Homo sapiens: one gene and its partners. The protein of the gene in region 6 purifies or fractionates together with the protein of the main gene of each other region. This does not show direct contact. Each region holds a gene or a part of one and is shown on either strand. Other genes may lie near its edges.

Evidence for each region.
Region 1: the proteins of SCARA3 (region 6) and GRAMD1C purify together in Homo sapiens (affinity purification with mass spectrometry; 3 studies listed by BioGRID and IntAct, with this or other methods). This does not show direct contact.
Region 2: the proteins of SCARA3 (region 6) and TNPO3 purify together in Homo sapiens (affinity purification with mass spectrometry; 4 studies listed by BioGRID and IntAct, with this or other methods). This does not show direct contact.
Region 3: the proteins of SCARA3 (region 6) and HEATR3 purify together in Homo sapiens (affinity purification with mass spectrometry; 4 studies listed by BioGRID and IntAct, with this or other methods). This does not show direct contact.
Region 4: the proteins of SCARA3 (region 6) and PBXIP1 purify together in Homo sapiens (affinity purification with mass spectrometry; 3 studies listed by BioGRID and IntAct, with this or other methods). This does not show direct contact.
Region 5: the proteins of SCARA3 (region 6) and COCH purify together in Homo sapiens (affinity purification with mass spectrometry; 3 studies listed by BioGRID and IntAct, with this or other methods). This does not show direct contact.
Region 7: the proteins of SCARA3 (region 6) and IKBIP purify together in Homo sapiens (affinity purification with mass spectrometry; 2 studies listed by BioGRID and IntAct, with this or other methods). This does not show direct contact.

Annotation. Positions count from the first base shown.
Region 1 is NC_000003.12:113,939,605-113,943,790, reverse strand, and holds part of GRAMD1C (protein Aster-C), read right to left. Parts: intron 3,906-4,186; coding exon 3,795-3,905; intron 3,552-3,794; coding exon 3,446-3,551; intron 1-3,445. UniProt on the Homo sapiens protein: Cholesterol transporter that mediates non-vesicular transport of cholesterol from the plasma membrane (PM) to the endoplasmic reticulum (ER).
Region 2 is NC_000007.14:128,999,309-129,003,494, reverse strand, and holds part of TNPO3 (transportin-3), read left to right. Parts: intron 1-2,260; coding exon 2,261-2,436; intron 2,437-2,927; coding exon 2,928-3,066; intron 3,067-4,186. UniProt on the Homo sapiens protein: Importin, which transports target proteins into the nucleus. Specifically mediates the nuclear import of splicing factor serine/arginine (SR) proteins, such as RBM4, SFRS1 and SFRS2, by recognizing phosphorylated SR domains.
Region 3 is NC_000016.10:50,072,336-50,076,521, reverse strand, and holds part of HEATR3 (HEAT repeat-containing protein 3), read right to left. Parts: intron 3,918-4,186; coding exon 3,808-3,917; intron 952-3,807; coding exon 811-951; intron 1-810. UniProt on the Homo sapiens protein: Plays a role in ribosome biogenesis and in nuclear import of the 60S ribosomal protein L5/large ribosomal subunit protein uL18 (RPL5). Required for proper erythrocyte maturation.
Region 4 is NC_000001.11:154,943,460-154,946,665, reverse strand, and holds the end of PBXIP1 (pre-B-cell leukemia transcription factor-interacting protein 1), read left to right. Parts: coding exon 1-1,094; intron 1,095-1,548; coding exon 1,549-1,642; 3' UTR 1,643-2,586; downstream 2,587-3,206. UniProt on the Homo sapiens protein: Regulator of pre-B-cell leukemia transcription factors (BPXs) function. Inhibits the binding of PBX1-HOX complex to DNA and blocks the transcriptional activity of E2A-PBX1.
Region 5 is NC_000014.9:30,884,386-30,888,351, reverse strand, and holds part of COCH (cochlin isoform b precursor), read right to left. Parts: intron 3,843-3,966; exon of another isoform or gene 3,800-3,842; coding exon 3,696-3,799; exon of another isoform or gene 3,678-3,695; intron 3,368-3,677; coding exon of another isoform or gene 3,311-3,367; intron 2,959-3,310; coding exon 2,732-2,958; exon of another isoform or gene 2,557-2,731; coding exon 2,040-2,556; exon of another isoform or gene 2,026-2,039; intron 1-2,025. UniProt on the Homo sapiens protein: Plays a role in the control of cell shape and motility in the trabecular meshwork.
Region 6 is NC_000008.11:27,636,746-27,640,931, reverse strand, and holds part of SCARA3 (scavenger receptor class A member 3), read right to left. Parts: intron 1-4,186. UniProt on the Homo sapiens protein: Seems to protect cells by scavenging oxidative molecules or harmful products of oxidation.
Region 7 is NC_000012.12:98,637,789-98,641,974, forward strand, and holds part of IKBIP (inhibitor of nuclear factor kappa-B kinase-interacting protein), read right to left. Parts: intron 1-4,186. UniProt on the Homo sapiens protein: Target of p53/TP53 with pro-apoptotic function.

The DNA of each region.
Region 1 (4,186 bases), on a different chromosome or scaffold from region 6:
AGGCGCCTGCTACCACCCCTGGCTAATTTTTTGTATTTTAGTAGAGACGGGGTTTCGCCAAGTTGCCCAGGCTGGTCTCAAACTTCTGAGCTCAGGCAATCTGCCTGCCTTGGCCTCCCAAAGTGCTAGGATTACAGGTGTGAGCCACTGTGCCCAGCCAAGGAGATGTTTTTAACTAGCAAAAATTAGTTTTACATTTTTCTAAGTGAAAGAAGCCAATCTCAAAAGACCACGTATTGTATTATTCCATGTATATAACATGTCCAGAATAGGCACACCCATAGTAATGGAAATTAGATTAGTGGGTGCCAGGGGTCAGGGGGAGTGAGGGATGGGAATTAACTACTAATGTGTACAGATTTTCTTGTGGGGTTATGAAAATGCTCTGGAATTAGATAGTGATGATGGTTGCACAACCTTGTGAATAAAAACTTTTATTGTATGTAAATTACATCACAAAAAGATTTTTTTATGGTTTTAAAGAAAGCAAGATTAGATACATTAGATACATTTCAAGAAAGAAGTGTTTAGCTCTGTCAAATGCTGACACTGTAGGATGAAGACTGAAAAAAGGTACATTCTTTTTACAAGCCAGATGTCACTGGGGACCTTGGCTCAAGCAATATTAGTTGGGGAAACCATGCGGGAAGAACATCAGGCAGGAGTGAGCTGAAGAGTGAATGAGTGGAATAAATACACACATCCAACTTTGCTCCCTCAAACTCTACTAATAAAGAGATTTTTTAGAAGGCATAAAGCTATAAGGGCAAGGAAAATGGAAAAGGAGACAACAGTAATGCAACTTTGGAAACTGGAAAGCAGATGGATGACTCAGCAGGCCTGGAAAAGCTGAATTCTAAAGTAAAAGTAATGCTGAGAACCAACAAAATTAACCCTAAAGAATCCTCAAAAGGCTCAGGTGTTAATGACCAGGAAGCTCTGGAAGTGAGAATAAAGAGGAAGAGCCAAAGGAAGGATTGCATGAAACTTTCGGCATCTGACCTTTCCTACTACCTAGGCAGAAGTCTGGAATTTTATTTTCCGTGCAGGATAAAACAGAGGGTCTCTGGCTGCCTGGCTTGAGGGACACCAAGGCATTGTTAAGGATAGCAGTACATACCAGAAACAAGGGTAATACAGGAAAATGTATGTACTGAATCCTGGGACCATCCTTTCTGCCTTTCCTTCCCCTATCCCTCTTCCGCTCAGCTCCTAAAACGCTGCAGCCAGCCCTAAATCCACCAGGTTGGAGACTGGAGGAGTCTTCTCTGTGGACACTGACCCAAAGGTGCTGATAACCAGGATTTCTCAGCCAAGAGCCCAGCCAGATCTACAGAGAAGTTTGGGGTACACCAGCCCAATCCATATGTAAAGAGCTTCAGATCCACACAAGAAGATAAGCAAGGGCTACCAAACACTAAAGAAATTCTCTAACCTTAAAGATAGAAATTAAAACGAGGGTGAAGATCTTGATGCAAAATGAGTATGCCAGAAGAAGATTTAAAAAATGTTAACTATCAGTAATATCTTCAGAGAGATAAAGATATGGTAGCCATTAAAAAAAAAAAAAAAATTGCAGCTGGGAGCAGTGGCTCATGCCTGCAATCCCAACACTTTGGGAGGCCAAGGCAGGTAGATCTGCTGAGCCCAGGAGTTTGAGACCAGCCTGGGCAACATGGCAAAACCTTGTCTCTACAAAAACTGCAAAAATTAGCTGGGCATGGTGGCTCACACCTGAAGTTCCAGCTACGGGAGGGTGAGGTGGGAGGTTTGCTTGAGCCCAGGAGGTCAAGGCTGCAGTGAGCCGTGTTCATGCCACTGCACTCCAGTTGGGTGACAGAGTAAGACTCTTGTCTCAAAAAAAAAAAAGATGGCCGGGCACGGTGGCTCATGCCTTTAATCCCAACACTTTGGGAGGCCGAGGTGAGAGGATCACCTGAGGTCGAGAGCTCAAGACCAGCCTGGCCAACATGGCGAAACCCTGTCTCTACTAAAAATACAAAAATTAACCAGGCATGGTGGCACGCGCCTGTAATCCCAGCTACTCAGGAGGCTGAGGCAGGAGAATCACTTGAACCTGGGAGGCAGAGGTTGTGGTGAGCTGAGATTGTGCCACTGCACTCCAGACTGGGTGACAGAGTGAGATTCCATCTCAAAAAAAAAAAAAAAATTGCAACACCACAAAGAAAAGAAATCATTCAGAAAAATGATAGCTCTTTGAAACTGAAAATTTGTTAGCGAAAACTGAAAAACTCAATGGAAGAATTTGAAGATAAAATTGATAAAATATCCCAGAAACAGACCAAAAAGACTAAGAGATGGAAAGAAAAGGTAAGAATATTACATAACCCATCCAACAGAAGGCTGACATCTGAATAACAGGAGTTGTAGAAGGTCAGGAGAGAGAAAATGAGGGAAGGAAATAATCAACTATATGACTCAAGAAAAATTCCAGAATTATAGGCATGAGTTTCCAGATTAAAGAATCAAGAGTGATAATAGCCTCAGAATTCTCAATAGCAATACTGGAACCAAAAGATAATGGAGCAATGCCTTCAAAGTTCTCATCAAACCATTTATAAGCAAGAGAAAAAGTAGAATGAAAAATTTTCAGTTAGGTGAACTCTTAAAATATTTACCTCCAAATTCTCTTCTCAGGAAGCTACTGTTGGATGTGCTCCATTAAAAGGAGGAAGTAAACTAAGAAAGGAAAACACAGGATATAGGAAACAGAAGACACACACAGACAATAGGAACCCCAGAATGATAGCTGTGCACCCGGCATAGAGGGCCACTGGACCTGACTGGAGCCATCAGAAGACCTCATCAATGGAGTACCTACGTGAATAAAGATTCTGAGAGATTTATAAACAGAAAATTAGGGGATTAAATGTCTGCAAATATTAAATGTCTGTAAAGATAATTGGCAATAGTGGTAAAAATACTAGTAAGATAATTATGGTACATTTATACAGTTGAATCTTATGCAGCTGTTAAGGGGGTTTGCTTTATATACTGAGATGGAAGTATCTCCAAGATATATGGTTAATAGATAAAAGTAAAATAATGGACAGTGTATGTAATAGCTACCATTCCTGTAAAAAGAGCTTAATATTATGCATCGAATTTTATTTAGAAAGATCAATAAAAATGAAGTAGATGTATACACACTGATATGGAAACATCTTCAGAATATATTACTAATTGAAAAAAGATATACAACAGTGTATATTGTATACTCCCATTTTGTAAATAAATAAATAAACAAAAGTGACTACATAATAAATGTAATACCCTTGCATACTAGAGACTGGCAGGGGTAGTTGGCTCTAGCAGGGGGATTTTTTCAAACGATAGTAGGGTAAATATTCTCTCATACACAGAAGAGCAACTAATTCATACTGGGACAAAGATACTAAGTACTGTGATGTATCGAGTTGCCTACCTGTTCAAGCATCACTATGGAGTCTCGGAGCACTCCCTTTAAACGATGGGCCTGATCTTTATTCTTCTGAATAGTTTCTGCTCTTGACACCATATCAGAGGCTAAACTGAAAGAAAAATGCCATCTTCAAAATCTGGAGAATAGCTTCTGATCTTTTTTTCATTTCCAGAAATCATCAGAGCCCCATAAATTTGCAAACAAAACACAAAATTAAACAAACAAAAACAGGCTGTTTATGGCTACAGGATAGTTAGCAGACCACAGTCTCTGAAACTGAAATTAAGTTTTCTGCAACTGAAGAATTACTGAAATAATATGGTGAATACAGGTCAGGGGGAAAAAGACTTACTTTAAAGATTTCTCTTCTTGGAGGCGGAGACGGTAAAAGGACTGAGCAGCATGTTCTATCTTTGACAGCTTCAGAAACAGTGTCACATTCAACAAAACTAATAACAACACACTAGGCAGAGCAAATTATATGTTAATCCACACTTTTCCAGACCTAAAGCATTGCTAATGCAGAATATACATGCAAAAGCTTCAAAAATGTGTATTGTCTACACTGTTTTTCATTGTTGTTATTATTTAAATCAATTATCCCTATTTTATTATATGAAATAATTACTTGTAAGTATTAAGTGGAGGTTGAGGAAAAGATGGAAGGTAATTAGAGTGACAATACAAGTCCTTGAATAATCCGAACTCACAGGTTTGGGGTATCTGTGACATCTCTCCCCTCTG
Region 2 (4,186 bases), on a different chromosome or scaffold from region 6:
GGGTTTCTCTTTATTGCCCAGGCTAGTCTTGAACCGGCCTCAAGCAGTTCTCCCACCTCAGCCTCCCAAAGCACTGGGATTACAGATGTGAGCCACCACACCTGGCCATGTCACATTTTATTTTGCTGTATGTTTGGACCATGACTTTCTGGTACAACTTTCCCCCAACAGCTCTTAAAAAAAAAAAAAAAAAAAAACCCTAAAAATTAAAATACTTCATATATACAAAAGAATAAGTATGAACACTTACTATTTATTTATTTATTTTTGAGACAGAGTCTCCTCCCTCTGTCGCCCAGGCTGGAGTGCAGTGGCACAATCTCGGCTCACGGCAACCTTCGCCCTCTGGGTTCAAATGATTCTCCTGCCTCAGCCTCCTGAGTAGCTGGGACTACAGGTGTGTGCCACCACACCTGGCTAATTTTTTGTATTTTTTTTTTTTTTTTTTTTTTTTTGAGAGGGAGTCTCGCTCTGTCGCCGGGGCTGGAGTGCAGTGGCGCCATCTTGGCTCACTGCAAGCTCTGCATCCTGGGTTCATGCCATTCTCCTGCCTCAGCCTCCTCAGTAGCTGGGACTACAGGAACCTGACACCACGCCCGGCTAATTTTTTGTATTTTTAGTAGAGATGGGGTTTCACCGTGGTCTCGATCTCCTGACCTCGTGATCTACCGGCCTCAGCCTCCCAAAGTGCTGGGATTACAGGCGTGAGCCACCGCGCCCGGCCAATTTTTTGTATTTTTAGTAGAGACAGGGTTTCACTGTGTTAGCCAGGATGGTCTCGATCTCCTGACCTTGTGATCTGCCCACCTTGGCCTCCCAAAGTGCTGGGATTACAGGTGTGAGCCACCATGCCCAGCTCGAACACTGACTTTTTATAACTTGGTAATATAATGAGAATCTTTGAACCTACTATTCAATCTAAGAATACCTAATAAATAATTTGCATCTTTGTGCTCTCCCAAACCTGCTTATATACCTTTTTGTCCCACTGGAGATTTTAAATATCCTTTTAAAAAAATTATTCAAGGAAGACTAATACGCCCTTACTAAGTGTATTCAACCTCTCAACTGTACTCTCTTCACTAGAAACCCGGGAGGATTCCCTTCTTGGACCTTTTGGTCTGCTCTGATTTGCATCAGTTGTTCTTTAGATCTACTCCCTGTCATCTTGGGACTTGTCTTTACTGTGCTTTCTGGATTAGGTTAGCTGTTTCTCAAACCCCCTCAAATAACTTCTTCAGAAAAGATATAATGGAAAGTAAACTTGGAATTTTTGCATGCCTGAGAACTATTTTTATTTTGCTTTCGATCTTGATTGATGGCTCAGCTAGGTATTAAGTTGTAGGCTGAATATTATTTTCCTTCAAAATTTCAAAGGCCTTGCTCTCCTTTACTAGCATGCATCATTGTTAATGAAAAGTCAGAGAACTCTGAATTCTGCTCCTTACTATTACCTCCTCCTCTCTTCCCCTGAAATTTTACAGACCTTTGTTTAACTCTGGTATTCTGAAATTTCACAATGATGTGTTTAGGTATGTGTCTTTGATACTTGTTGAGCCCTTTCATTTTAGGTAGTACTTGAGTATCAGAAAAAGGATGGAAAAGATTTTTCACACACTAGAATAGGGTAGGGAACACATGGCTTTCCATTTGGAGGGGCTGGTGTGAACAAGAACATGGAGATTAGAAATGATACGACCATGACTTCGGGACAGAAAGGCTGATTTGCTTGACATATAAGGAAATAGAAATAAGATTGGGAAGATTGATGGATGTTGTCTCATGGAAGGCTATGACTTGACTGTTACACATTTAAAGTACATGTTCAGAAAGAGGCTATAATTGAAAGAAAGAAAGAGGCTCTAATTGTTTTCCTATTACATTTATCCATCACTATCTTCAAAGGATTGGTTCCAGGACCACCCACTACCCCTGCCCCTCTGTGCACAGTTTCCAAGAGATGCAGATGCCCAAGTCCCTTATATAAAATGGTGCAGTATTTGCATATAACCTATCCACATCTTCCCATATACTCTAAATCACCTGTAAATTACTTATAATACCTAATACAATGTAAATGCTATGTAAATAGTTGCTATAGGGTAATTTTTAAATTTGTGTTTTTCATTGTATTATTATTTACTTATATTTTGAATATTTTCTATCGATGGTTGATTGAACCCTAGGGTGTGCAGGGCCAACTGTAGATCACTCCTTAGTGATCATACTTCTTGCTTCCCTATTCCTGCTACCTCCCCAGCAACAGGATAAGACCTCGTCTAACCTACATGAAGCTGCTTCGGACTGTGTATGCTCAGCTCTCTATGCCATTGAGAATGTGGAGACTAACTTGCCATTAGCCATGCAACTTTTTCAGGGAGTGCTGACATTGGAGACTGCCTATCATATGGCCGTGGCACGTGAAGATTTAGACAAGTGAGTAATTGTTTAAGTCTGGAGCCCTGGGTTTACCTACAGTCTGGTCATTCTTTTAAGTCACTTTTTATTATTCGTCTGTCATTTGTGATTCTCAGTGATTCTGTAAAGTACAGATAGTGCTTCCTAAAGATGCTCTACTATGCTCTTCTGAACCTAGAGTGGCAAATTGGGTGCAGGGTTTGTAGAATTACCATAGAAAGGTAAGGCTTTAAAAGTTGGAGACAAATTTTAAAATATCAAGTGTGATTTGATGGGAGTTTTTATTCAAATGTTTTAATAATTGAGAATTTGAACTGACAAGTCACTTGCGTAGGAGTGTACGATCTAGGTAAAGGTGTCTGTCATGGGGATTGTGATACAGCATAGTAAATAATCACTAGATGTCCCTTAGACTGAGGAACCTTTTATTTATTTGATTAACTGTGCCTGTATATACTTATAATATCCAGATTTCTGACTCATTGTTCTCATTCCCCTGTCTTCTACAGAGTTCTGAATTACTGCCGTATTTTCACTGAACTATGTGAAACTTTTCTTGAAAAAATTGTTTGTACTCCAGGCCAAGGTCTTGGGGACCTTCGAACTCTGGAGCTGCTGCTTATCTGTGCAGGCCATCCTCAATATGAGGTAGTGTTTATGCTATTCAAAGGCCATTATTCTCCAAGTTGTGTGCTGCATATTATCTATATTTCATTACCTCGTGCCCAAATTTTTATTGTTGAGAAATTACAGTCTTGTTTTTAATTAATGTGATTTCATCTGTTTTGGAATTTTTTAAAAAAATTATATTTGGGTTTCTGCATTGTGTCCATTTCTGTTTTCTTACCTGGTTGGCTGGGCTGTTGTAGGCCCCTCAAGGAACTCGTTAGAAAGCAAGCCTTTCCAATGAACCCCTTGTCTAGCTTGACTTATTCTCTAGAGTGTTACAGCTAAAAAACACCAAATTCTAACTATACCTCCACAAGTCTTAACACCCCCAATTTTTCTCCAAATGATGGATGAGAATGACAAAGGGATTGAAAGGACTTAAGGGTCTCTGTCATTCAGAATCCTTGACATCCTACTTACCGAGGTTTGCTAGATTTTTTAAAATCTCATTTATTTGAGAAGTTTTACCTCTTTATAGTATAAGAAATGAGAAAGGGTCGGGGTTGGTGGCTCACACCTGTAATCCCAGCATTTTGGGAGGCCGAGGTGGGCAGATCACCTGAGGTCAGGAGTTTGAGACCAGCCTGGCCAACATGGTGAAACCCTGTCTCCACTAAAAATATAAAAATTAGTCAGGCGTGGTGGCTCACACCTGTAATATCCCAGCTACTTGGGAGGCTGAGGCAGGAGAATTGCTTGAACCTGGGAGGCAGAGGTTGTAGTGAGCTGAGATCGGGCCACTGCACTCCAGCCTGGGAGACGAGCGAAACTCCGTCTCAAAAAAAAAAAAAAAAGTGAGAAAGAAGTGCTCCCAAGTTGGGCATTGTTTTAAATAGCTCTGTTTTGGATCCTTGATGGGAAAAGGATGGTAGGGATCCTCTTACTGTGCCTTAGGCACAGTGGTCCTGTGACTCTCGGCCTGTTTTCTGTTATCACATACAAGACAACGTTTATTTGTTTTACATAATGTTACGAGGATACCTAGATTTGAATGGAACCCAAAACATTTCTGGGAGAATGTAACACCACGCAGTTATCACTCCTTTAAACAGTACCATATGGAAAAGAGGCTACGAGTAAAATCCCAGGCTTTTTCTCC
Region 3 (4,186 bases), on a different chromosome or scaffold from region 6:
ATGTGTATTTTTCCACTATTAAAATAAAAAAACAGGCCAGGCGCAGTGGCTCATACCTGTAATCCCAGCACTTTAGGAGGTCAAGGTGGGCAAATCACCTGAGGTCCCGAGCTCAAGACCAGCCTGGCCAACATGGTAAAACCCCGTCTCTACCAAAAATACAGAAATTAGCTGAGCGTGGTGGCGCACGCTTGTAATTCCAGCTACTTGGGAGGCTGAGGCATGAGAATCACTTGAACCTGGGAGGTGAGGCTGCAGAGCCAGCCACCGCACTCCAGCCTGGGTGAAAGAGCCAGACTCCATCTCAAAACAATAAAAAATAAAAAAAGTAAAAAAGTAAAAAAAAAATCTCTCAACATAAATTATCTCTGCAAGACAAAGGGCAAGAAGAAAATAGATACATAAACTAAATAAAGTACATACTAAACAGACCTTCAGATAATTTCTTACTTCTGTATTCAGACATTCTGCAGAGAAAAGAGTTGGTGGTTAAAAAAAAAAAAACTTATGGAAAACTAAGTGGTCAATTTCTGAAATCACTGGTTCATAAATAAGTGGGGATCCTGACAACAGCATCTCTTTATCAGGTTAACAGTAGTTTGTTAAATTCGAAACAAATCTATTCTACAAGGATTTACAACTATAGACAACTGCTTGAAGTAAGGGTCTCTTCTCAGATATTAAAATTTTCAGAACAGATAAAAGCACAGAAGACCTAATGTGTTGAAATGAATGACTAAATTTTGCCCCCACCACATCCATACCAAAAGCTACTGAAACAATATACTATGCCGTAAGGCTAAATTTTACCTGCTACCAATGTCTTCAATAGAAGAGATTCCATGGAACTGACAGGAGAAAGCAGTGCTGATTCCAGCATGTTCAATGCTGTAGCACTGAAAGACTTCAGCAGCTCTGGGTTATCCTCAGTCACTGTCTGCAAACAATATGCTACGAGGCAAAAAATAAGTATTTAGAAACAAATGAATTCTGCTTTGGATAATTTACACCAGTATAACTCATCAATAAAACATTGTATCATTACCACTTCATTAGACACATGTAGGTTTTGCAAAATATATATGCTTTATCTCAGGGTGATATGCGCAAATGAGGCTTCCCAAACTATCAGTGCTGGAAAAGATCATGTTTCTTTTCTTTTTAAATTTCTAATCCTGTACAGATCTATACTTTTTTTTTTTTTTTTTGAGACAGTCTTGCTCTGTCACCCAGGCTGGAATGCAGTGGCGCATCTCAGCTCACTACAACCTCTGCCTCCCAGGTTCAAACGATTCCTGTGCCTCAGTCTCTCAGGTAACTGGAATTAAAGGTATGCGCCATGATGCCTGGCTAATTTCTATATTTTTAGTAGAGACAGGGTTTCACCATGAAAGCCAGGCTGGTCTGGAACTCCTGGTCTCAAGTGATCTGTCCGTTTCGGCCCTTCAAAGTGCTGGGATTACAGGCATGAGCCACCATGCCCAGCCAGATCTACACTTTTTACAAAATACAATTAAAAAGACTCTTTTATTTTTTTTTTGAGATGGAGTCTCGCTCTGTCGCCCAGGCTAGAGTGCAGTGGCACAATCTTGGCTCACTGCAAGCTCCGCCTCCTGGGTTCACACCATTCTCCTGCCTCAGGCTCCCGAGTAGCTGGGACTACAGGCACCCGCCACCATGCTTGGCTAATTTGTTGTATTTTTAGTAGAGATGGGGCTTCACCTTGTCAGCCAGGATGGTCTCGATCTCCTGACCTTGTGATCCGCCCGCCTCAGCCTCCCAAAGTGCTGGGATTACAGGTGTGAGCTACCACGCCCAGCCTAAAAAGACTCTTAAATGCGGCAATGTCGTTACTATAAATGTTTATAAAAGTTTATCCTCAGGCCGGGTGCGGTGGCTCATGCCCGTAATCCCAGCACTTTGGGAGGCTGAGGCAGGAGGATCACTTGAGGTCAGGAGTTGCAGACCAGCCTGGCCAGCATGGCAAAACCCCATCTCTACTGAAAACACAAAAATTAGCTAGGCATGGTGATGCACGCCTGTAATCCCAGCTACTTGGGAGGCTGAGGCAAGAGGATAGCTTGAACCCGGGAGGCGGAGGTTGTAGTAAGTCGAGATTGCGCCACTGCACTCCAGCCTGGGTGACAGAGCTGAGACTCCATCTCAAAAAAAAAAAAAAAATTTTACCCTCAATTTATGTACTTATCAAGGACCAGTAGCAAACAGCCTTAGGTTTTGGGACGTCTGGCTTCCTTTAAATTTATCATGACCTTCAAAGTTAGGGTTATTTCTGGCAGAGCAATAGCTCTTTAAGAAAAAAAGTAGTTTATATAAAAGTATGAGCAAATTAAGAGATGTGTAAAATATTAAATCATGCCCATCAAAATTACTCAAAATGCATGCTACTGCTGTGGTTGATGATACATTTATATGGAAATCCACATATATGCATTTCTGTACATATATCCAAATGTAATATCTTTGTCATTAAGAAACTAATTAAATTTACTTTAGCCAACAGCCATGACTGCTACCATACAGGTTCAAAAAAAGTTATATGAATACATGGGATGGAATCTTATAAGTTCATTTTACTATATGTAAGCATTGCTTGACTTTAGAAGCAAAAGTAATAATGTATTTTAAAAAATCATTAATCTAGCTACATGGAGAAGGAAAACACTATTATACAATGCAAAATGACTATTCTAATCCATTTCAAAAACGCTCATTAAGGGGAAGAAAAACTAAAAACAGAAATAAATCTATAAGACTAAAGGCACAAAAATAGAAGTGATTTTTCTTGTAAAAGATATGAACTAACTTTCCTGAAGTTCTCTTATTGTAACAAAAACTGTCCTCTGAGATTAAGTCACCTATCAATTTCCTAAAAATGGCTGAATCGTTTTTAAAATCCCCATTTACTCACAACTCTCCAGCCCCACCAAGATTCCATTTAGAGAAATGATTTTTAAAATTTTCTCAGTAGTATTTATTCTACTATTTTCCCTCAATTCTGTTCTCTTAAAAATATCCATTAGAGTCAAGAAAAACAGCAGTCAGGGGAATACACTTCTTCCTCCCCAGGAGAAATGCAGTTCCACAAAGGGACAGCTGGATGCCCGCAGTAATGATCGGTAGAAAAGAAATGCTCTCCCTCAATTGTTTCTCCACTCCCACCCAGAATTCTGCTGAGTTGCCTATGCTCTGACTTCTGCCTCCTGCCACTGAGCTGAGGGTCCCCAGTGGTTCCCCAGCCCAATAAAGAGAAGGCGAGGCAGCCAAAGCCACTGAAGTTGCTGGACTTTGCCTTCCCTGTCTCATGGAAGGCATGAAGGCCTAAGTGGAATTTCAATCATTTCTTTTCCTCTTTTTCTCTCAACAAAACTCAGGCCGTCAGTTTTCTGCTGGACGTATGAGATAGTAGCACAATACATTTAAATAAGTTTAGATTCCAATTAACTGGCTTAAAGGCCTGGTAGTTGTGCGTTACTGTTTCTTAGTAAATGGAGATGAAAACTTCAAGAATTAATAAAGGCTGCTAAGAATGGAAACAGGCTAGAAACCACATATCCTCACATAATTACCTTTCTCCCTTTCAGAGTCAAAAGCAGAAAAACTGAATGAGTAGGTAAAGAATTAATATTAATCACAGATTTAAGACCCAGAAAAAACAGGTGCTGAGCTACACATTCACATACAACGAAACAAAAAATCACTCCAGTGGAATAAACACGCCAAAGCTGCATAAAAATTTTTGAATAAGGCTACACATTCTTAATAAGTCATCACCTTTTCTTCACTTACCTACTGAAATAGCCAGGTCAACATTGGTAGGAAACCTACTTAAATACTTTAACACAATCTCCAAACACCCTTCTTTGTTGAATATAGACACTGCTCTACTACTGCATTCACTAAATTGAAGGGGGAAAAAAAAGTTTTACTATTCACATTTTAACAGTAGGAAATCAACCATAGCAATCCATAAAAAAACAAACGAGGCTTTATAAACCAAGGAGTTGGAATCAAACACCCACCATTTTTATCGATGAAGGAACTAACACCCATTCACATTCACTGTACATGAGAACTGGCTATCTATATTTTATTTCTATCACAATGGGACCTTTTCATCAATCTCTTTGCCATGATGCCAGTTTCCTTATAGAAGGTTAGAGCTGGA
Region 4 (3,206 bases), on a different chromosome or scaffold from region 6:
CGGCTCCAGGGGCTGGAGGCCGACTGTGTCCGGGGCCCAGATGGGGTGTGCCTCAGTGGGGGTAGAGGCCCACAGGGTGACAAGGCCATCAGGGAGCAAGGCCCCAGGGAGCAGGAGCCAGAACTCAGCTTCCTGAAGCAGAAGGAACAGCTGGAGGCTGAGGCACAGGCATTAAGGCAAGAGTTAGAGAGGCAGCGACGGCTGCTGGGGTCTGTACAGCAGGATCTGGAGAGGAGCTTGCAGGATGCCAGCCGCGGGGACCCAGCTCATGCTGGCTTGGCTGAGCTGGGCCACAGATTGGCCCAGAAACTGCAGGGCCTGGAGAACTGGGGCCAGGACCCTGGGGTCTCTGCCAATGCCTCAAAGGCCTGGCACCAGAAGTCCCACTTCCAGAATTCTAGGGAGTGGAGTGGAAAGGAAAAGTGGTGGGATGGGCAGAGAGACCGGAAGGCTGAGCACTGGAAACATAAGAAGGAAGAATCTGGCCGGGAAAGGAAGAAGAACTGGGGAGGTCAGGAGGACAGGGAGCCAGCAGGAAGGTGGAAGGAGGGCAGGCCAAGGGTGGAGGAGTCGGGGAGCAAGAAGGAGGGCAAGCGACAGGGCCCGAAGGAACCCCCAAGGAAAAGTGGTAGCTTCCACTCCTCTGGAGAAAAGCAGAAGCAACCTCGGTGGAGGGAAGGGACTAAGGACAGCCATGACCCCCTGCCATCCTGGGCAGAGCTGTTGAGGCCCAAGTACCGGGCACCCCAGGGCTGCTCAGGTGTGGACGAGTGTGCCCGGCAGGAGGGCCTGACTTTCTTTGGCACAGAGCTAGCCCCAGTGCGGCAACAGGAGCTGGCCTCTCTGCTAAGAACATACTTGGCACGGCTGCCCTGGGCTGGGCAGCTGACCAAGGAGCTACCCCTCTCACCTGCTTTCTTTGGTGAGGATGGCATCTTCCGTCATGACCGCCTCCGCTTCCGGGATTTTGTGGATGCCCTGGAGGACAGCTTGGAGGAGGTGGCTGTGCAACAGACAGGTGATGATGATGAAGTAGATGACTTTGAGGACTTCATCTTCAGCCACTTCTTTGGAGACAAAGCACTGAAGAAGAGGTGGGCAGCTGTGGGGGAGTTGGGTCGGGTGGGACAGAGGCAGTCGGGAGGATGTGAAGAGCAAGGATCATTAGTTTGAGTATCCTTACTTTTGGTCCCCAGCTGGCTTCCCTTAGAGAAGGCATTCAGGTCCGCTTCCTTTCTTCCCTTGAGGGTAGGAAGCTGCCTGTGCCCACCCCAGAGTGGTCCTGAGCAGTCCCCTTTTGGGCAGGGGGATTCTTTCTCCTGAGTTGCCCTGCCCTACCTCTACCTGCATGGCCCAGGGGACGAGGGAGATCCCCATCTTCCTGTCTCCCCGACTGGAGCCTTTATCCTGGGAGACCAGGTTTTTCCCACATATGCTTGGTGGTGCCTGCTCAAGTCAGCTTCATTGGGAGGAGCAGGGTCCTCTCTCCTTGGGGAACCCGTTTTCATTGCATGGTATTGTCCCCTAAAGGCCTCTTCCTCCCCACAGGTCAGGGAAGAAGGACAAGCACTCACAGAGCCCAAGAGCTGCGGGGCCCAGGGAGGGGCACAGCCATAGCCACCACCACCACCACCGGGGCTGACACCCTGCCCCACAGGGAATGGCCTTGGCCTGGCCCAGCCCAAGATCCCAGCGTTATCTAACTCCTGGAGGGTGGACTCTGTCCTGGCTTGTTTGGTGTCCTCAGATATCTTTCACACAGTAGAGCAAAATCACCAGCCCTGCACTGATGTCACTTTATGTAGAAAAAGGCCTTAGCTGGACCTGCGTTGCCGTCTATGCAAATGCATGCAAATACTCCAGGCCCTGGGATGTGGGCTTGTGTTTTGTCACTGTGAAGGGGGAGATGGGAGAGGAGCCTGTTTTGGGGTGGGGTCTGGGGAAGGCAATCTGATTCTGAAGCTAAAGAGCTTTCATCCTCTTGAGTGTATGTCCCCATAGTGGGCCCCTTGACCCACATGCTGACCGGTGCCTTGGGATTTGACTAGAGTTGCTGGCTCGAGGCCCAGCACGAGGACTTACCCTGGGGTTTTGTTAGGTTTGGAAGCAGCTGTCCCTAGGGGGTGAAGTCCCCCCCCTTTTTTTTTTTACCCCTGCTTCTCCCACGGCTTCACCTCCCTATGTGAACTGTAGACTCAGATCCCAATAAAGTGCTGTTGCAGCTATGATGCTAGGTGGTTTCTAAGCACAGGGGACACCCCACACCCCCTGCCTGAATGGATGGGTCCATCCCAGGCACTGGTACTTGCCCCCTTGTTCTGTATCCCCCTTTGCCCTTGCCTTGCCCTTCCAACAAACCCTAGGCCCTTGAGAAGCTGATACTTCTCCTTTTGCTCACAGCTGCCTTGGCCCCACCCCTGGGAGATGTAGCAAATTGAGTGTGGGTTTTGGAGTCTGAGCCTCAGGCTCAAATCCAGGCCAAGTGATCTTGGGCAAGTTAATCTCTGGGAACTTTGGGTTTCTTATCCTCAAAAAAGGCGATGGAAGGGCTGGGGAAGTGATTAAATAAAAGCAACGCAAGAAAAATGCCTCTCCTGTTTTGGGCACTCAAAAGTTATTGCCTTCTTTAGGGAAGGGTGTGGAGGAGGGAAAAGAACCCAGGCCCAGAAGGAAGAGCTTCTGGGGCTGGGGAGGTGAGGGAACCACTAGGTGGCACCCTGGCTCCATTTTGCTCCAGACCTCGCCTCTCCCACTACTCACTGTCCCCAAAATCTCAGACCCTACCCCACTGACCCCAGCGCCTGCTCCACTGGCCAGCTCTCCCAGGATGACCAGACTCCCCTTGGCTATTCTCTAGGAAGTCCTTCCTGAGATCTAACCTTAGTCCCTTCGGCAATACACTGGGCTTTTTGATGACCCTGGAAATGCCCAGGAAGTACAGGAGACAGAATAATGTGGTGTGACTGCTCAGGCAGGAGGCGGGGGACTACAGGTTCTAGAAGGGGCTGTAACTGATTTCTGTATTATTTAGCAAGCGAATATGTAACTCTGTTTAAGGGCTTAAAGGTATTAGTTCATTGAATTCATGTGTGGGTGGGGCAGGGGTTAGGGCAGGCTGGGGATGGAACAAGGACCACTAATTCAGCAAACATTTATAAAGTCTACTGTGTACCAGAAACAGAGAGGCACTGGGAATACAGAGGCAC
Region 5 (3,966 bases), on a different chromosome or scaffold from region 6:
ACCTAAGATATGCAGCAGGTTTAGATGATGTAAAAGCTACTTGGAACAATGTCCAATTGTTCCAGTCTCCTTTTCCTGACTCTCACTCCCTGGTTAAAAAAAAAAAAAGTCAAAATATTTTTTTCCTCCCCCTCAGTTTTCCTCACTTCTTTTCAGTTCTACATTCTAGTTCAGATTGTTTAGCTCAAGCCCAGCATATAATTACAGTTAAAAAAAAAAATAATCACACCACTGTACTCCAGCCTGGGTGACAGAGCAAGACCCTGAAAATAAATAAAAACTGTTGTGATCTACCCCTAAAATCCTACCCTATTTTCTGGCTTTTGCAACTTTCAATATCACTAAGGGATAATTTTCACGAATCAATATTGGTGTAGTCCAGCCTCCTGAACTTTAATCAACCTAATCACTTTATAGCCTGAATACAATCCTGTTAACTATAAGTTCAGTAAGCTAAGTATTAAGGAATATGATAGTAAACAGGTCTTTACTTCACAGGCTAGTTGCTGATGTATAAAAAATACTTTTTACAAGCTAGATGTGGAACTTAAATTGCATGTGTTCTCTGTTTTAAGAATAATCTTTCATCAGTATCTGTAAAAATATGTGAGTACATTGGCAGAGGTACTAATGTGTAGAAAGGAAAAAGGTTATGTCATTAGGAATTAAGTAGGGAAAATGAGGTACAGAAGAGTGTTAAAAAAAACAAGTCCATTGATTCTTCCCTCCTGTCACTCAGTTATATCCTCAGAAAGGGAATCTTAGCTTTTTGTTGGCCTATTTGATCTCTAACACATTACGTTAATGTCTTCAGGAACGAGGCCTGTGCCAAAAGTAATATTAAGGCTGGGGTGAGGAAGAAAGAAACCCTTCTTATACCCTTTTATAACACCAGAGTGTGTTTTTATTATCTTAAGCGGGGGGGAAAAAGTTTTTTTTTTTTTTTTTTTTTCTTTTTGAGACAGAGTCTCACTCTGTCGCCCAGGCTGGAGTACAATGGCACGATCTCAGTTCATTGCAACCTCTGCCTCCTGGGTTCAAGTGATTCTCGTGCCTCAGCCTCCTGAGTAGCTGGGATTACAGGTGTATGTTACCACACCCAGCTAATTTTTGTATTTTTAATAGAGACTGGGTTTTACCATGTTGGCCCGGCTGGTCTTGAACTCCTGACCTCAGGTGATCCCGCCCACCTCAGCCTCCCAAAGTGCTGAATTACAGATGTGAGCCACTGCACCTGGCCAAGGAAATTTTGATGGGATAGGTAAAGTCTATGGGAGACCTTATCTTAGGAAACTCATGCCAGACAAAACTTGACTAAAATAAAAGTTAGGGTTGGGTGTGGTGGCTTATGCCTGTAATCCCAGCACTTTGGGAGGCCAAGGTGTGAGGATTGCTTGAGCCCAGGAGTTTGAGATCAGCCTGGGCAACAAAGTGAGACCCCCGTCTCTCCCCAAAAAAATTTAAAAATTAGCCAGGGGCAGTGGCATGTGCCTGTCGTCCTAGCTATTTGGAAGGCTGACACAGGAGGATTGCTTGAGCCCAATAGTTGGAGGTTGTAGCTCACTACATGCCACTGCACTCCAGCCTGGTGACAGAGCAATTACCTGTTTCATACACAAGAAAGTTAGGATAAATTACTGAATGGCAGATTCATGGTAGGTTATAAGCTGGCTATTTGGAGATATAGTCCAAGTTTGAGCTAAATATGAGCACCTTAATTGTATATGTATAAGCATATTTCCTTAATGTGACATGGTTCTCATGGCAATTCTCCCAACAATACAGTGGTTAGGAATGTGCACTCTGGAGCCAGAATGCCTGGGTTTGGATCTTGGCCTTGCCACTTACTAGAAATGTCATTTCCAGGAAGTTTGCTTCCTTATCTGTAGAATGAGATGAGTAGGGCTGCTTTAACAGTTAATATTGGGTAAAGCCACAGGTGTTTGTTTAATGAAATAAATGCTTAAATTTTTATTTACTCCTAAATTCACTGAACCGTTTTTTCTGTTCCCTTCTCCTATAAAGAACAAGGACCTTACCTGCATCATGTGCAGCAGCTGCAGGGCCTTGGACATCATCATAGGACTGCCCATCTGTGACAATTACTAGGAAGTTCTTGTTGGGGCTCTCCCTTATAGGGCCAAACACATTTCTAACAGTGAAGGAAATGGCATCACCAGTAGCTGTTCCACCACTCATATAGCGGATGTTTCTGATGACAGCTAGGACATTCTCTTTGGTGCTATAGTCAGTGAAACTGAACTCCGTGCGCTGATCATAAGTAAACTGTACAGCAGCTATCTTGGCACCAATGTCCGAGATTTCAAAAGTCTTGGCTATGTTGGAAACAAATTCAAGCATGAGGCGGAAATTGCTATCTCCAACACTGCTGGAGCCATCAATTAGAAAGGCAATGTTCACTGAGTTATAACAGGTCTTGCTGCACATCATTTGTTCATGAGTGCACAGCTTCTGTACCAGAGGCTTTACGTATTTTGTGGTGCCAAACCAGTTGGGCATGTGGTAAGAGAAGAAGCCATTATTCCGACAGACAGCCTAATGGGGGAGACACATAAAAGATATCCAAAAGGATCAAAAGTTGTTTCTTCTTAAAAACTGGAAAATCCTGAATGTTTCAAGTTAATCTAGATAAGAGGCAGTCAGCACTGCACTTAGAGGTCCAAAATGGAATACCCATCACTGTAACAGAAGATAACCCTCACCACTTTACCTTGTCAACAAATGTGACATCCTGAACCATCCCCAGTTCTTCAGGGATAGGCTTGGCCACAGAAACTATAAATACATTGACACCAAACTCTCTGGCCACAATGCCTGCTTCCTCGATGTCATCAGAAGGCCAACCATCAATAAATACCACCACCACTTTGGGGATCCCTTTTCTTACTCCAGCATCTACCGTGAAGAATTTCTGAGCAGTATGCTTCAAGGCTTTTCCTAAATTTGAAAAAGAAGCAAACAAATAGCCTTTACCACTGCTCAAACCACATTTCTGTTTCCCTGTAGCATTTGATGCTGCAAAGTTTAAGAATTATATATAGAACTGGCAGTGGGGCGGGGCACACAAAAAAGAATTATATAGAACCCAGTTCTGTAACAGATGCATCAGCTGGGAAAGTTTAATTATCTACCAGGCCTATTTATCTTCACAAGCCATATTAGTTCCCCCTCCACCTCCTAGAAGCCTCACATTTGTTTACCCCACATCAATCGCCAGTTAGAAACACAAAACTGATTCCCACTTCCATGCATGTGCTCTCTATGTAGCCCTTTGGTGACTGATTAGTACCTCTAAGAAGTCTCTCTTCAGAGTCAACGGTAGTGCTACTCATTCTTTCTGCCACATCTGCATTCATTAGATAAGTCTGTTGATTTTCACTTCTTTTTAGCATTACAAAGAGATACTTCTCCAATGTTATATCTAGTCAATCCAATGTATGAGAATTCTAAATCACCATGCTTTATATTTTTTAAAATAAGAAATATCAACACTTTGGTATACTTCCATTATAAATTGAAAATTTATCTCAGATGATCAAATGCAGACCTAGCCAAGATTTCAGTTCCAGGAGGATTTCACATCTGCTCATATAAAATAGCATAATACTGTTTTACATGTCTGATCACTGATAACCCTCTCCTATGTTACATCCCAGGTATCAAAGTCTACTTACCTGTATTGGAATTACCCCCTCTGAAACCTACTTCCTTTATGGCAAACAAAACATCTTTGGCTGATGTAAAGTTTTTCAAGTAAAATTCTATTTTGGGATGTTCACTGAGTGGAAGAAAGAAAATGTTATTCAGGGAGAATTAAAAAGGTAAAATAAGCAACATTACATGCCTTAAAAAACAGTTTTAAAACCAGACAACACACAAGTTTCTTTCTTAATTCCATAGTACATAGTCAACTGAGGCATTGCATCCTTACTTGAATTATTGGAG
Region 6 (4,186 bases):
TGAGCCCAAGAGTTTGAGATCAGCCTGGGGAACAGGGTGAAACCTCATCTCTACAAAAAATACAAAAATTAGCTGGGCATGGTGGCATGCATCTGTAGTCCCAGTTACTTGGGAGGCTGAGGTAGGACAATTGCTTGAGCCTAAGAGGTTGAGGCTGCAGTGAGCCATGATAGTGCCACTACCCTCCAGCTTGGGCAACAGAGCAAGACTCTGTCTCAAGCAAAGAAACAAACAAACAAAAACAAAAGCAACAACTAAAAACCAGCACTAAGAACAAAAACGCTAAGTAATCGGGAGGCTGAGGAGGGAGGATTGCTTGAGGTCGGGAGCTTGAGACCAGCCTGGGCAACATAGCGAGACTTCATCTCTACAAATAATACAAAAATTAGCTGGGCATGGTGGCACCTGCTTATAGTCCCAGCTACTTGGGAGGCTGGGAGGATCCTTGAGCCCAGGAGGTCAAGGCTGCAGTAACCTACAATGGTACCACTGCACTCCAGCCTGGGCACAGAGTGAGACTATGTCTCAAAGTAAAATAAAATAAAAATAAAAATAACATGGATAGTGTAATCTTATCTACATGAAAAAAATCTGTGCAAACATACACAGAATGATTTCTGAAGAATGTTCATCTACATTTTGTCATTTATTATCTCTACAGGGCAGGAGTTCACGTGAGTGAATGTTTTTCCTTTTTGGAATTTTTTGATTTTTAAAAAAATAATAAATGTGTTATAAAAAGGTTAAATGCAGCTGCTCGTAATGCAGAGTCTATGTCTGTAACCATCTTTTCTCCTTCCCTTGCCTCCCGATAAAGAGATTCTTTCTTCTCAAAGCAAGTCTCCCTCAATTCCACCGCTCTGTCCCCAAGTCCCCCCATGCCTCTTCTGTCCCTCCCCCTCCCAATGAGCACGGGCCATCCCTGCCTTGAAATCCTTTGAGCTGGGCCCTGCCTCCCACTCTAAGGACACAGCTCCTCCTGCGCCTTTGCTTCTGATCCACTCAGCCCCTCTGGCCCTTGCAACCTGGCCTTCTCTGATCCATGAATCCTGAGCTAACTCTGCTGATCAGCAGTCAACGCGGTGGGTCATTTCCTCCCCCTTGGAACTTTCTCCTCTCAATTTCCATGACATTACCATCATGGTTCTCTGCCTGTGTCCTGGACTGCTCCTCTTGGCTCCTTTACAAGCTCATTTTCTTCCTCCCACTCTCTAAAAGTAGAGGTTTCTCAACATGGGCTAAGGCCACGAGAGAATATCTCCAGGGGCAAGTGGCAAATAGGCCTTCTCCTGACAAACCCTCCCAGGTCTCTCCAATGTCAACCAGACACAACCGCGTGTCCTTTATGGAGCACTCAGGTCCTTTCTGGCTTAGGGCTCCCTCAACTGCAGGCCATCTCTCTCCCCCACCACCAAACACTCTTCCCCCAGGACCTGCTGTCCAACTTTTCCCAGCACTCCTTCCTGCCCTCTTCACTGACCCCATCCAACTCCTCCCCACCCTTCAGCTCCTCCCTGAAGCCTTTCTGAACTGCCCAACTTGAAATGCTCCCTTTCTCTCCCGGGATTCCCATCCAATCTCCCGTATATGCCGTGCATTTGTTCTTTTGTGGCATCTGCCTGGATGATTCGGTTCTCGTCTCAGGTGTGCACGTCTTATTTCTGCTGGGAGGGCAGAAAGCACCCAGGCTTGCCTTCCAACTAGCGTGCTTCCTCCCTAAAAACAGGAACTCCATACATGTTGGCTGACTGAAAAGTGTGGGCTGGGGCAACAACTCAGAATAACCCATTTTTTAGCTTGGGTTCAGGTGAAGGGGAAGGTGTCTCATCTGAACCATGAAGAAGGTGCCTGCAGGTCTCCACCTGGAGACACTGAGGACACCGATGGAAATACAGCTGTGAAGCCCAGAGAGGCAAATCTGGTGCCGTCAGATTTGCCAGCTCCCACATGTCACATCTTCGAGGCTGGGAGAGATTGTTCAGGGAACGGGTGCCAGCAAGAACCAGGAGCCTGTCTGTGGCTGAAACCGAGGACGCATTTCGAAGAACAGCAGCAAAGAAGGAAAGCCAGGAAAAGAGCCCAGCCCACCCCCAAACTCTCTCGCTGGGAACTCCCTTAAGACACTTATCACTGTTAGTCTTTTTTTGAGTGACTTGGGCACAAATCCTATGTGTCCTAGTAAAGAGTAAGCTCCCTGAGAGAAAGGGCAGCATCTGAGCTCTTTGTAGCTTCCTCAGTCCTTAGACATATATAGACATACAGAGCCGGGCACCTGGCAGTCGCCCCATCGCTGTTTGTTGAATACAGGCATCTTTCTGCATGTTTACGGAATGCCTGCGTGAGGTTCTGACGATACCATGGTACAGTACAGATGTGCACACTGAACAGACTTAGTGGACACCCCCTAAGTGCCAGAAACAGACAGAGACCCCACTGTCATGAAACTTACACTCTGATGCCATCCCATGGGATCATCTGGTCCACCTGGATGAGGGGACTGACCCCAGGGAGTACCAGGGACTTCATCCCAGTGATAAAGCTGGCCTATGACAGGGCTGGGCCTGACCTTGGGACTCAGTGCTCTACACACACACACACACACACACACACACACACAATCACTAAATTATACATGATCAAACATGGGCAGTGCATGTATGAGAGCCATGCCCAGCTATGCCACCCTGTACATCAATTCTAACACCCAGAACAGCTGCCTGTCCTTCACGGAAACTGCCAAGCTATCCATCAACCTAGCCTACTGAGAAACAGAAGGCTTTTTCCTCGCTCTCGATGAGCCTTGGGACCTGAGTCTTCAGTTATTAGGCTTACCCCCAGCTAGAGGGCAAAGTGACTGTTTTGGCTGGGGGTGGGAGTGGGGCCGATGTTTGAGGATTTGGAGCCGAACTCCAACATCTGAGCCGCTGGGCTCCCTGGACCCCTCAGTTAGGCTGTCTGGTGGCTCTTTTCACCTTCACCACATCAGCTCCTTTTCTTCTAGCCCTGGCTCCTTCCCGTGCCCCTGGGGAATGAGGTCAGGCTTTCTGGGGCCCCCAGCCTGGCCGCTCATGAGTGGAGATCCTCTCCTCTCGGCCAGAGGAGCGGTGCAGGGCGGATTCCTCCTGGGATTGCATCGCTGTGTTTTCACAGCCCCTCCTCTCCCCACTTCCACCCTTTGCCTAAATGAAGTGGGCACTGCTCTCTGATTCTGGAAGGAGGGGTTGTTTCTCCCACGCCTGAGGAACAGAGGGCTGCCCCCTGCCCTGGCCACCGCAGTCAAGCAGAAGTCTCTCGGGGCAAAGAGGCCACAAGGTGGGCCCGCTTCCAGCCACCTCACCACTGAGTCACTTCCGCTCCCCAAGTGGTGCTCAGGCGCAGAGCTCTTGGGCCTCAGGGACCACCCAGGAGGACAACGGGGCCGAAGAGGGCAGATGATGGGGCCGGGACTAAAGCCCATGTCTTCGACTCTCAAATCAGTCTTCACGGTGCACCAGCCTGTGTCTTGGGCATCTTGGGGGTGGGTCACTCTTACTGGAAGTGTGGAAACAACCCCACAGGTGGCTGCTAATGGCTTGGACAAGCCAGTGGGAAGCTCCAAGGTGGGCCTATCACCAAGGGGCTGGTGGCACCTGAGTGTCCCCTTAGGGCTGCGTGTGAGAGGGGCCAGGTGCCAGCTTGGATCAAAAGAGGCAGCGGCCTGGGAGGCCCTGTCAGCTGGCCGTGGGGCAGGAGGGGCCTCGGGTGGAAATGGCTTGGCTGGCAGAGTGGGCCCTGGCACTCGGCCACCGGTGGGCTGGGCAGCCCGACTAGCGTGTTTTCTTGATCACCTTCCCCACCATCACCGGTTCTCCATACAACATCACATCACATCACGTGTTTGTTTTGAGCAGGGCATGATCCTTTGCCAACAGATGTAATTCGAAGTTTGGTGTGGCCTCTGGAGGAGCACGGGAAGGGTTCTCTGGAAGGGGCTGCCTGCCCTACTCTGCCGGGCACTTTACTTTTTCCACTCGAGTGAGAAAAATCCTGGTTCTTTACACCCCACAGATCCCGGAAGCCAATTATTTGCTGTCTGCCCTGCCATTTCCATCTCTGGTAGAGGGGCGGCTCTTCCCGGCTGCCAGGGAGGGAAGTGCTGGAAGTCAGCCCCCAGCCCCGCAGCCCATGCAGCCCCTGTGATGTTATG
Region 7 (4,186 bases), on a different chromosome or scaffold from region 6:
CAACCTCCACCTCCCAGGTTCAAGTGATTACAGGCGTGAGCCACCGCACCCAGCCTAGATGACTGATTTTCTAGAAGTCAAGAAAATATGCTGAGAAAGCTGCTTCAGATCTGAAAAACTAAGCTTTCAAACTGGCATCCATGTTAGGGTATAAGGTCCTTTATTTCCTTTTTATGAGTCAGGGGCATATTCTAGTGAGAGCAGTTCCCAGTCTTCCCATTTAGATGAGAGTGAAAAACAAGCAATTAGGGTCTGCTAAAGGGTATACCTTCAAGTAGAAGGAAGAAAAGAACTATAAGTAATTCTGGACTTGGGGATTTCTATTTCTAGGATCTTGGCCTTTTGTTGGGGATTAATATCGAATGGAGGCAACGAATCATACTGATTAGGTGGGTGACTGGACTGCCTTAGCTCTGCCATTTACTAAGCTGTATAACCACTTTGGGCAAGTTAAATAACTTTGATGTTTCCTCATCTGTGAAGTGGGGATAATACCTTATTTTAATCTTATTTTTTAAAGACAAGATCTCACTCTATTTCCCAGGCTGGAGTGCAGTGGTGTGATCATGGCTCACTGTAGCCTCCCAGGCCCAATCCATCCTACCCCCTCAGCCTCCTGAGTAGCTGGGAACACAGGCGTGTGCCATAATGCCTGGCTAATTTTTTATAGAGATGGGGGTCTTCCTATGTTGCCCAGTCTTGTCTTGAACTCCTGGGCTCAAGTGATCCTCCTGCCTTGGCCTCCCAAACTGTTGGGATTATAGGTGTGAGCCAGAGCACCCAGCCAATACTTCATAGGGTTGTAGTTTGTTTTTCGACAAGGTCTCATTCTGTTACCCAGGCTGGAGTACAGTAGCCTGATCATAGCTTACTGCAGCCTTGAACTCCTGGGCTCAAGTGATTCTCCCACCTCAGCCTCTCAAGTAGCTAGGACCACAGGTACATTACCACCACTGGCTAATTAAAAAAAAAAATTCTGTAGAGAGGAGATCTGGCTATTTTGTTTGTTTGTTCGTTTTTTGAGGCAGCTGAAGAGGAAGAGGTCTACAGTGACACAATCATAGTTCACTGCAGGTCAAACTCCCTGGGCTCAAGCGATCCTCTCGCCTTGGCCTCCTAAAATGCTGGGATTATAAGTGTGAGCCACCATGCCTGGCCGAGTTATTGTAGACATTAGTTATTGCTATTTATAAAAGCTCCTGGAACAATAGAGCCATAGCACATCAGCTATTTCCTTTAAGTACTGTGGCCCCTTTTTTTTCTCTTTTTGGAGATGGAGTCTCACTCTGTTGTCCAGGCTGAAGTGCAGTGGTGTGATCTCGGCTCACTGCAACTTCCGCCTCCTGGGTTCAAGTGATTCTTCTGCCTCAGCCTCCCAGCTAGCTGGGATTACAGGTGCCCATCAACAAGACCAGCTATCTTTCTTTTGGACTACTTTGTGCAGCTACTCTTCCATCCTTCCTACATGCCTATGATTGCATAAGGGAAGCAGGGTTCCCGACCACTTGCACTTGATAGAAGCCCCAGGCCTGTCCCCCTTTGAACACTAAGTATAAACTGGGTTGTGTTTATGGCAAATGAAGGATGGAATAGATGGATTAGACCACTTATAAATCACTAAATAAAAATAACTCTCGTTTTTGGGCCTCTTCTCACTATCATATCATATGGCCTTGTGGAAGAGTGAGATACAGGAGAAAGGGACCCAGGCTACTTTTAGCGTAGGCCTTACAAAAAGAATCTTCCTGACTCCTTCATGAGCCATTGCAGTCTATAGAGACCTCATACAGATCTATCTAGGGTCCTGTGATAATGAATGGTTTACATTTTCCTACAGTGCATGGTGGTAATTAATGGTGTGTGTTGCCTCTGAATAGCTCCTTTAGGAACGTTAAATGGTGGCAGACAGCTGACTGAGGACTTACAAATTCAGGATTTCCTCTGGCTCTATTTCAGCTTAATAATGAAAAAGAGGCAAATAACCAAAGGAAGCTGTTACGGACCTTCTGCAAGGAAAGAAGTTCCAGGGCCACTATTAGGGTCAGTACCCATTTAGCCCTATGTTTCATACCATCTATAGCCTCAGTTTTAGCACAATACCTAGTTTTCAAGAAAACCTTGACCATATTCCATTTTTAAGAAGCAGGACATTTAAATTATACCCTTGTCTTTTAGATAAAACTCTACTAACACAAAGAAAAAAGCTGGAAATGGAGTTAGCCAAGGTTTTACAGTATGATTTATAGAGAAAATTATATTGGATAATTAAAACAAAAACCAGAGTTATACAACTTGCTTAAAGAGCTTTTGACTTTTTGTACATAATTATAACAGATACTATAAAAAACTTTTATAAAGGCAATTTAGGCCAGGCACGGTGGCTCACGCCTGTAATCCTAGCACTTTGGGAGGCTGAGGTGGACAGATCACCTGAGGTTGGGAGTTTGACACCAGCTTGACCAATGGAGAAACCCTGTCTCTACTAAAAATACAAAATTAGCTGGGCGTGGTGGCGCACACCTGTAATCCCAGCTACTCGGGAGGCTGAGGCAGGAGAATTGCTTGAACCTGGGAGGTGGAGGTGGAGGTTGCGGTGAGCTGAGATTGCGCCACTGCACTCCAGCCTGGGCAACAAGAGCAAAACTCCATCTCTCAAAACAAAACAAAACAAAACAAAACAAAACAAAACAAAAAAGCAATTAAAAAATCTATTGAAGTTTCCATAAGAAACAAAATTTTCACAATGGAAATTCCAGCTGATTAAATTTCTATGTAATTAAATAAGCATGAGTGACAGGTTTTGTGTCTTGTTTAGTAATTTAACAACTTTTTAACTTTCTGAAAGTAGAATCACCTCAATTCTTACCTGAAAAATTTCTATAAGAGTTTAGAAAAGAGCTATGCAAACTGACACTCAAGCCATATGGGTTTGGGCAACTTATCTCCAGTGTTTATTGTCAAGATGACATAGGATATATCAGGCCTTTTTTTTTTTGCAGGGTCTCACTTTGTCACCCAGGCTGAGTGCTGTGGTGCAATCAAAGCTCACTGAAACCTCAAATTCCGGGGCTCAAGCAATCCTCCAACCTCAACCCCCCAAGTAGCTGGGACTACAGGCATGCGCCACCATGCCTGGCTAATTTTTTGTATTTTTTGTAGAGACAGGGTTTTACCATGTTGCCCAGGCTGGTCTTGAACTCCTGAGCTCAAGATCCGCCCAACTCGGCCTCCCAAAGTGCTGGGATTACAGGTGGGAGCCACCACACCTGGCCTATCAGGCCTTTATTTAGCAGAGAGAAGATATTAAAGCAACACACTTTTAAGTTTCTTATGTATTATTTCTCTTTTCTTTCCACATAGGAAATGGTCTGAAGACAATGATATAGTGTGATTCCTTGAAATCCTTCTTGGGCAGTGGAAGGGTTCAGATTTTTTCCCTCCAACTTAATCAGATGAAGAGTGAGAGTAAGCAGTATTTAAGAGTACACAGACAGGCACACATATGCACTTGTATTTTAACCACCAGGGCCGTGTCAGTACGGAAAGCATTTAATAAAGATTTGATAGACCGACTTTTAGATGCTGAATTACGTGTTTTAGTGGTAAAGATCTCAATGGCTTTGTCAAAATTCTAGTGAGCTTTTAAGTATTTTAAGATGCCAAATACTTGCTTTTTATCTGGAAAATGTTTACAAATGTCTTATGGGGATATATTTTTATTTCAAAATTTACTATGAATAAATATTTTGCAATAAACAGCAACCAAAGTACATTTGCTTCAATTTTTGCAGCAAAAGATTTCACAAGAGCAACTAAGAGGCAACTATTTAAATAATAATTATAGAATCTGCCCATAAAAAACACATATAATACATACATTTTAGAGAGACAGGGTCTTGCTCTGTCTCTCAGGCTGGAGCACAGTGGTATAATCATGGGTTACTGCAGCTTTGACTTCCCAGACTCAAGCTATCTTCTCACCTCAGCCTCCCAAGTACCTGGGACTACAGCGAATGCCACCACACTTGGCTAATATTTAAAAATTTTTCGTAGACACGGTCTCACTATGTTTCCCAGGCTGGTTTCAAACTCCTGACCTCAAGCAATTCTCTCGCCTCAGTTTCCCAAAGTGTTGGGATTATAGGCATGAACCACTGGGTCTGGCCCCCAAAATTATTTTTGATAT